3 separate regions of the Homo sapiens genome follow, and all the other regions are linked to region 3. The links come from fine-mapping of genetic effects on gene expression. A gene starts in region 3. Each other region holds a variant in brackets. All regions are shown on one strand. Distances are between the middles of the regions. Region 1 overlaps IKBKB (inhibitor of nuclear factor kappa B kinase subunit beta). Region 2 overlaps VDAC3 (voltage dependent anion channel 3). Region 3 holds the start of IKBKB (inhibitor of nuclear factor kappa B kinase subunit beta).

Region 1 (2,655 bases), 49 kb before region 3:
TTGAGGTCAAATATGGCTAATTTTTACATTTTTTTGGTAGAGGTAGAGTTTCACCATGTTGCCCAGGCTGGTCTCGAACTTCTGGGCTCACAAGCAATCTTCTTGCCTTGGCATCCCAAGGTGCTGGGATTACAGATGTGATCCACTGTGCCCAGCCAAAAACATTTTTTTTTTAAATTAGCTGAGCATGGTGGCATGCGCCTGTAGTCCCGGTTACTTGGGAGGCTGAGATGGGAGGACTGCATAAGCCTGGGAGGTCGAGGCTGCAGTGAGCTATGATTGTGCCACTGCACTCCAGCATTGGCAACAGGGCAAGACCCTGTCTCTTAAAAAAATAATACAAATACAAATAAAAGAACTAGAGGAGAATAAAGGGTTAATTAGAGAAAATACAGAATCAAAGTTCTGACATTTGGAGCTCCTGTCCTAAGAATCCTAGTGAGAGAATCAGGGAACACTGCTGAGCTCACGGTGACACAGCCCTCAAGCGGCCTGCCTGGTTCCCTCCATCTGTACGCCAGGAGCACATGTGATCTCCTTCAGGTAGGAGTGATCTGCCTAGACCCCTCCGCCCCTCATGGAGCCAATGCCAAATACCTGACAAAGACTCAAACGAATAGTTTCCAGGTCCAAACTCCTAAGCCTCATCAGGTTCTTCCTTCTCTGTTTTACTTTCTGCTCTGAGCTATGCCTGAGTCAGGGTGGGTGGAACAAATCAGGGGAGTCTGCTACAGGGGTAGAGGCTGCTTGCATTTTACAGCCTTTACAGATTATGGCCTGCGTCTCAAATGCATTATCTGAATTCATCCTTACAACTTCGTGACTTAAGACTGTTTTTCTTGTCACTGAACAGATTTGGAAACTGAAGCTCAGTGATGATTTGCTGGAAGTGACCCCACAGGGAAGCATGCTCTAGAGAATGGTCCCGCACAGCCACTGAGGGTGCCCTTGACACACACACCGAAGCTCCAGGGCTGTCTGTGTGTGCTGGGCACAGAGGGGCCCCCCAGCCAGTACTCACAGGTCGTCCAGCGTTCCCCCCTGCTTCCGGCCCATGGGGCTCCTCTGTAAGTCCACAATGTCGGTCTGCAGAGCCATCATCCGTTCTACCAGGAGTTTCACTTCGTTCTCCTAATGGAAAAGCTGTGCTAATGTCAACTGATGTGGTAGGCGCATGCTGAGATGCAAGATCTGCGGGGGAGCGAGACCAGGGGACCCGCCACATTCCCTGAGGACCCTCAATGGACTGGCTCAAAGGAATGTGGACTGTGGGGTCTGAATG[G/A]CTGCGCCTGCATCTAGGGTCCACCGCTTTCTAGCTGTGTGACCCCTTGGCAAGTTACTTACCCCCAGCTACAGTTTCCTTTTGCATAAAATAGGCTTCTAACAGGGCCATCTGAGGAGTCAAGTAAGATGAAGTACTTAAAGCCTCTGGCATGGTGCCTGGCATACAGAAGATGCCCAAGACACATTACTTTCTCTTCTCTTCATCTGTCTATCCTGATGCTACCCGGGCAGGGAGGCCCAGACTGTTTTATTTCACAGATTATGAGTCCCAAGATGGGGAGGAGCACTCAGCCCTTCTATGGTTAATATTCACCATTAAACACACATATACTCCATCAGTACTGATTCATAAAAATCGATACTAAGACACAGGTGAAGATCCTTGCCCAAGTACACAGGGGAAAACAGAGGATAAGTCCAGGAAAAAGCCCCGGAGCCTGACTTCAACCTTCAGTTTGTGTGAGGTTCATTAAGTCACATGTATTTCCTTTGCCTTCATAATTAACTTTTTTTGGTGACATCTGATTTACGCTGCCCTGAGACTTTCTGCCTAGACCTTTTATTTCCTATGGATTTAGCATCCCAACAAAATTAGTCAAAAACCTTCGACAAGAGGGAGTGTTGATCATCCATCCAATGCCCTTCCTAACAGGAAATGGTCTTGGCTTTTCCCCAAGGGAACCTAACCCTTGCTTCTTATTTAAACCTGGACCATCTCTGTCCATTCATGCAGCTCTTGCATCTGGCCACAGAGGGGCTCCCTTCACTGGCTACTCTCTTGGCCTCTTTTCAGCTGGTCCAGTTAAGCTCAAAGCATGGTGAGGAACACCTGATTTTTGACAGAGATCGACCCAGTGTTTGATGAGAAAGTGAAAAGTGGGAGCACAAAATCTCACCCCCTTGGTAAGTTCCGAAACCCAAAATGAGTCTCCTACCCGCCCACAGAGCTCCACAGCCTGCTCCATTTCCCTCCAGGCCAGCAGCAGTTTATCTGATGCTGAAAAAAAATTGAGAAGGAAAAACAAAACAAAACAAAATAAAAACACCACAAAACTGAAACAGAAATAAGCAACTCAATTATAATAGGACAAAAGAAACCTTAGAAAGAGAAAAAGAAAAAAAAATGGTGTCTTTAAACTCATTGCAAAGTGCACACTCACTGATCCCAAACTCGGTTTGCTCGCTGTACTTCTCCAGGTCAATCTGGATGCTGGTTTTGAAGAAATCCAACTTGGCCTTGAGCTGCTGAGACATGGAAGCCATGGAATTCTTCATTTTGGAGAGGCAGCTGTTGTTTCGGAGGAGATTCATCCTGCAGGGACCACAAGGAACAGTCTTGGAGCATCTCTGGGATCCAAATTCCATTTCCTG
Region 2 (2,805 bases), 130 kb before region 3:
TGAGAAGTTCATAGAACTTAGAAACTTCAAAGTAGAGTTCAATAAAGATTCTGCAAAAAAATAAAAAGGTAGAGGTATAGGAATAAAACCAATTCTGGATTTCCTTTAAAACACAATCCTACAGTTAGAAAGCACCCTCCTACGATACCTAGGGTGCACTGCTCCAGAAAACCACCTTAGTTATTGCTTCCAAGCATGCCAGAGGTGAGTCCTTGGGTTTTCACATGGTTTTCCTGATAATACTGTTTCATCAATTTCAGTAACTGTCTATACCACTGCTTGCCTTTGTTTTAGCCATCATAAGTAAATTAGAGCATCTAGCAGAGAGGAATCTGCAACAGTTTAAAAACACATAGTTTGCCCTTTGCTTTTTCTTCCTGGTATAGTAGCAGTGTCCAGTAGGCTCAACATAAAATACTACGTAAAAGTTCTGATTCATCCCACCAACATGGTGCAGCCTACATAACTGAATCCCAGGACTCTTTCAGAGCACCTGTTACTTCTGAATGCATTAGCGGTACCTGGGTTCCAACCGAGAATACCAGTACCTGAAACCTCCACAGAATTACCGGGATGTCCCAGGATGCTCAGATCAATTTGGTGGTGGTTGTTGGTGACCAAAACAGACCTGCTTCCAGATACTGTCAAGATGAGAGGGCAGCAGAGGAAGCAGTAACATCTCCAAAGGGTCATCTTACCATGAGGTAAGCCATGCTCTGGGCTCCCTCTATCCCAGTGGTTCTTCTACAGAGGCTGGAGCTTCCTCAAGTTTGGGGTGCAGGCTGAGGGGCCAGTGACCACCAGCAGCACAGCCTGCACACCACGTGCACCAGCCTCCTGGCAAGGTTTTGCTATGAGGATAGCACCGCAAGGATGGATATTCACCAAGGCATGCTAAATCTGAGTACCATCACTTCTCAGCATGCTAATGGCTACAATATTTTGGGCAACTGCACTGATACTAAGGAATAAATTATAAACACTCACACATGTGTGTGCAGCTGGAAGTCCGCAGCCTTGTAACCCAGGGCGAAATTATTCTGTGACAGTTTGGATTTGGCTGTGTCAAAACTCATCTGATAGCCAGCAAGCCACCCTTCGAAGGCCAACACAGCCCAGCCATAGATGGTTGGTCCAGAAAAATCTATATCAACATTACTGCCAACACTAAAACAATCCCGTTTATAGGAGGCCTTCAATTTCCCACTCTTCTTTCTGCAATAAACAAACAAACAAAAGCAAATGATGAAAACAACATGAGTTCTTACTACTGTCTAGGAATTTTTAGAGTAAGATCCTCTCTCTCATCTCCCAATGTAAATA[T/C]TATTTTGGTACATGCCACATATATAGTAAAAACATTTCAAATGACCTAGTTCTACAAATATAATTTTGTTAGGATTAGACATGTATAGACTACTATCATCTATTACTCATTATAAGTTCAAATGATAGGATACTTCATGATTTATTTCATAAAAGCATGAACAAAAGTATAAGAATGAATAAGAGGCTGGGTGTGGTGGCTCACACCTGTAATCCCAGCACTTTGGGAGGCCAAGGTGGGCGGATGACGAGGCCAGGAGATTGAGACCATCCTGGCCAACATGGTGAAACCCCGTTTCTACTAAAAATACAAAAATTAGCTGGGCGTGGTGGCACACGCCTGTAGTCCCAGCTACTTGGGAGGCTGAGGCAGGAGAATCACTTGAACCTGGGAGGCAGAGGTTGCAGTGAGCCAAGATCATGCCACTGTACTCCAGCCTGGCGACAGAGCGAGACTCGTCTCAAAAGAAAAAAAAAGAATGAATAAGATATTTCAGTGCCAAATTAATAATCTGAAGGTGTATGTATACAGACGTACAAGAAGCCAAATCTCTTTAAATGTTTCCAAATGCCAAATGCCACAAAGAATTAATCCCCAATATACATTATTAACCTATCATGGAGAGAAGCATGCTTTTTTGAAGGACAATACTGAAAAAATGAAATTAGTTCTTAATAACCCTATTCCAATCAAGCCTCTTGTAGGAATATTTGTCCTGGCCGGGCACAGTGGCTCATGCCTGTAAGCCCAGCATTTTGGGAGGCCGAGCCAGGCGGAACACGAGGTCAAGACAGAGACCATCCTGCCCAACGTGGTAAAACTCCGTCTCTACTAAAAATACAAAAATTAGCTGGGCGTGGTGGTGCATGCCTGTAGTCCCAGCTATTTGGGAGGCTGAGGCAGGAGAATTGCTTGAACCCAGGAGGCAGAGTTTGCAGTGAGCTGAGATAGTGCCACTATACTCCAGCAAGACTCCATCTCAAAAAAAAAAAAAAAAAAAAAAAAGAAAAGAATATTTGTCCTAAAGATAACTGAAGTGTGTGGCAAAAAGAACACACCTGTTGTTACGGCTGAGACAAATGTCACTTTGCATTCATCTAGCAACCTCCGTCCTTCAGATAGCATGGACCCACATTAGGCAGATAGGAAATGACACAATCCCCCTTTTTTTCACGAGGAAATTGAGGTCAAGAAGTTGGGGGATTTACAGAGGCTAAGAAATCAAGTAGGCAGCAGAACTAATCATTATAGCATCTGAGAGCCAGATCACCTTCTTAAGAAATTAACTTTTCAGCACCATAAGAGAGGGTGAGGGGGAAAAAAAAGGAATTAACTTTTTTTTTTTTTTTTGAGACAGAGTCTCGCTCTGTTGCCCAGGCTGGAGTGCATCTCGGCTCACTGCAAGCTCCGCCTCCTGGGTTCATGCCATTCTCCTGCCTCAGCCTCCTGAGTAGCTGGGACTACAGGCGCCCACCACCATG
Region 3 (2,805 bases):
TTTTATAACATATAATATCAGTATATATTAGTACATGATATTCTACTGTTACCATATATATATAATAGAGACTAAGAGCTTAACTTTATTTTACTATTTATTTAGGTGACATAGTCAATAAAGCATGGAGACCACTAACCTGGAGTCAGCTCAGAAGTCCTGAAGCCCTCTTCCCAGTCCCCCTATTCACTGTCCCAAGATGACCAAAGCCAAAGGTGAGCCCTTGGCCCAGCAGGATCAGAGAAAGTGGAGGCAGTGAGGAGGGGGCCTGGCTCCCCGCCCCTCCCCAAGCTGCACAGAGGGCCTACCTGATTGTGCCATCGGATGACATTTCCAAATCCCCCTGTCCCAAGGCGCTCTTTCATTTCCCAGGCCCCACATGTCTGCGTTGTCAGGGAAGGTGACCAGCTCATACTGATGTCGTGCTAACTCTATAAGCAATTTGGGATGGGGAAAAAAGGTTAGGATTAAGAAAAAAATGGAGCTCAAAGGGATGGAGAAGGCAAGAGATACCACTGCTCTTGAATGGGAGAGAAGAAAAATACAACTGGTTTTTTATTTTGTAAAGAAACCAATGTGTTTGGTTGGTCCAAACTTTGTGGCAAACTTTTGTCCCTCTCACCCTCCCCCATCCGGTTGCTGTGGCATCAGGCAAGGAAGAAAGTCACCGAGGGAGGCGATGCCCACGCCCTTGCCCTAGCGAGGGGATCCCCAGCTGACTCCACCAGGGGCGCCCGGGCCTGCCCGCCTTCTGCCCGAGGTGGCAGGGGCAGAACCTACTTCTGAGCATCGCCGAGGTCACGTGTTTCTTTACAATGTTCCCATAAATCGCAGGTTCCCCTCAAAGCCACCCACCCCCAAGAAGCCACCCCAGGGAGAGCTGTTTCTCCCGGCTTCCCGAACTCCAACCCGCACAAGTGAAACGCTCCCCAGTCCGCAAGCTGCGACTTCCCAGCGGCACAGAGGGGTCTTCCGGGCCTTGCAGGCAGCGGGGCGGCGGGGCCTGCAGGTGGCACCCGGGCCGCACCCACGAGGGGGACTCACCTGTCGGCAGGGACGCGGGGCAGGGGGCGGGCTCCCCGGGGCGGGGAAGGCGGGGCTGGGGCGGCCAAACCCGGGGCTATGACACCCCCCTGAAAACATTAAAATGCGGGAATCTTAACGCGGGCAGCGCGGCGCGACTTCCTCAAACACTTCCTGCTCTGACGTCACGGAGCACGTTGGCCGCGGCCGCTCTTAAAGAGGCCGCTCCCGGCGCGAGGCAGACCAGGTCCGGATGCTGCGAGTGCTGCGCCTGTCCCGGGACCCTCGACCGGGCGACTCCCCCGGGGCGGGGGTGGCGTGTGGTCTCTAGACAACTGAGGGAAAGTAGACAGACCGTGCTCACCGATTTAAAAGAACAGCCCTGAAATGACCCCCGTTACACCCTGTTCTCTTTAGACAAGTTACTTCCACCTGGAGCGGTTTCTGGGCCCGGGTATGGGGATTTCTTCACCCGGCCCCCTAGGCTTTCACCTCGGTGGAATTTCCCGCGCCCCCGCTGGGATGATTTAGGGACTGTTGGCTAGAACTGCCCTTGCCTACCGCCCTACTGCGGGCGCTCCCCTGTCTGGGGGGTGCTTGGCTGGGTGTGGAGAAGGATCAATCACAGCTGACTCCTCAGAGGTGACAGCCCCTGCCCCCTTAAAAACAAGAAAAGACCTAGCAGTGTGAAGCCAAACTGCACCCCCAGCCCCGGTGACATGAGGAAACCGTGAGGCGCTCAGCCTGAGGTTCATCGTTCATCTCCTTCCTGCTTGGAATCAGAATGTCCTCACTGCTGAGTTTCTCCGTTTTATGGGATTACATTAGTGGACAAAGGAGGTGTGTGTGTGTGTTGCTATATTTTATTCAAGCAGAAAAAAACTACCAAAGGAACCTGAAGATGATAATAATAGCTCACATCTATAGAGTGCTTACACAGTGCAGGGCTCTGTTCTAAATCTCTGTACTTAGATTTCCTTATTCAATCCTCAGGGCAACCCTGTAAATTGGAAAATACTGCATCATCATCATCATTATTATTATTATCTCGCTCTGTCACCCAGGCTGGAGTGCAGTGGTGTGATCACAGCTCAGTGCAACCTCCAACTCCTGGGCTCAAGTGATTCTCCTGACTACAGGTGCGCGGCCGCCATACCTGGTGGCGGGGTCTCACTCACTGTGTTGCCCAGGCTGGTCTCCAACTCCTGGGCTCAAGGGATCCACCCGCCTGGGCTTCCCAAAGTGTTGAGATTACAGGCTGTGAGCCACTGCACCTGGTCTGCATTATTATTATTTCCAAGGTACATGGCTGCTACGTAGATGAGCTGATACTCAAACCCTAGCAACTGGTTCCCGGGTTCTTAATCCGTGGCTAAAAGTAGCATGTTAAGAAGTTCAGAAGGAGGCAAACTGGATTTTGAATCCAGATACTGCTGTTGACTACCTCTGAGGCACGGGGGCTGGTTACTTAAACACTGTGAGAACCTATTTCCTCTTTTAAAATTTAGGCAATATTAGGTTGAATTGCATTTAATTGTCATTTTTTGGAAATTGAAAACAGCCAAAACATCAGTAACAAAGATCAGCAGTTTCATCTGCTTCATTGTAATAGCAGGGGGACAGGCGGGCTCATAGAAAGTCATAGAAAGGAGGCCACCCCAGAGTTGTTGTGAGGGACAAATGAGGTATTGATAGCAGCAGTGCCTGACAGCCCTGGGGTTGAAGTTAACTCAGGGACAGATCTCAACCCAAACATAGGGGTCAATGGTGTCCAGGGCTGTG

The links. PIP is the estimated chance that this variant, and not a neighbour inherited with it, causes the effect. A credible set is the group of variants that fine-mapping cannot tell apart.
Region 1: its variant is the best candidate, but not a certain one, in a credible set for the expression of IKBKB in whole blood (TOPMed, PIP 0.78).
Region 2: its variant is the best candidate, but not a certain one, in a credible set for the expression of IKBKB in blood mononuclear cells (TOPMed, PIP 0.50).

What each region holds. Positions count from the first base shown.
Region 1 is chr8:42,319,211-42,321,865 of GRCh38, reverse strand. It overlaps IKBKB (inhibitor of nuclear factor kappa B kinase subunit beta), which reads right to left. Exons shown (of 22, transcript NM_001556.3): 14 at 2,445-2,596; 15 at 2,220-2,281; 16 at 1,022-1,131. Among named protein-coding and RNA genes, the nearest start is that of POLB, 18 kb to the left of the region's middle. The variant G/A (reference allele first, on the strand shown) is at 1,283.
Region 2 is chr8:42,400,198-42,403,002 of GRCh38, reverse strand. VDAC3 (voltage dependent anion channel 3) reads right to left here. Exons shown (of 10, transcript NM_005662.7): 7 at 988-1,215. Among named protein-coding and RNA genes, the nearest start is that of VDAC3, 9.7 kb to the right of the region's middle. RefSeq lists a silencer at 1,603-1,822. The variant T/C (reference allele first, on the strand shown) is at 1,324.
Region 3 is chr8:42,269,709-42,272,513 of GRCh38, reverse strand. It overlaps IKBKB (inhibitor of nuclear factor kappa B kinase subunit beta), which reads right to left and starts at 1,212. Exons shown (of 22, transcript NM_001556.3): 1 at 1,045-1,212; 2 at 309-431. The coding sequence starts at 413. IKBKB-DT (IKBKB divergent transcript) reads left to right here and starts at 1,264. Exons shown (of 4, transcript NR_185843.2): 1 at 1,264-1,863. RefSeq lists a silencer at 932-1,221 and an enhancer at 1,718-2,217.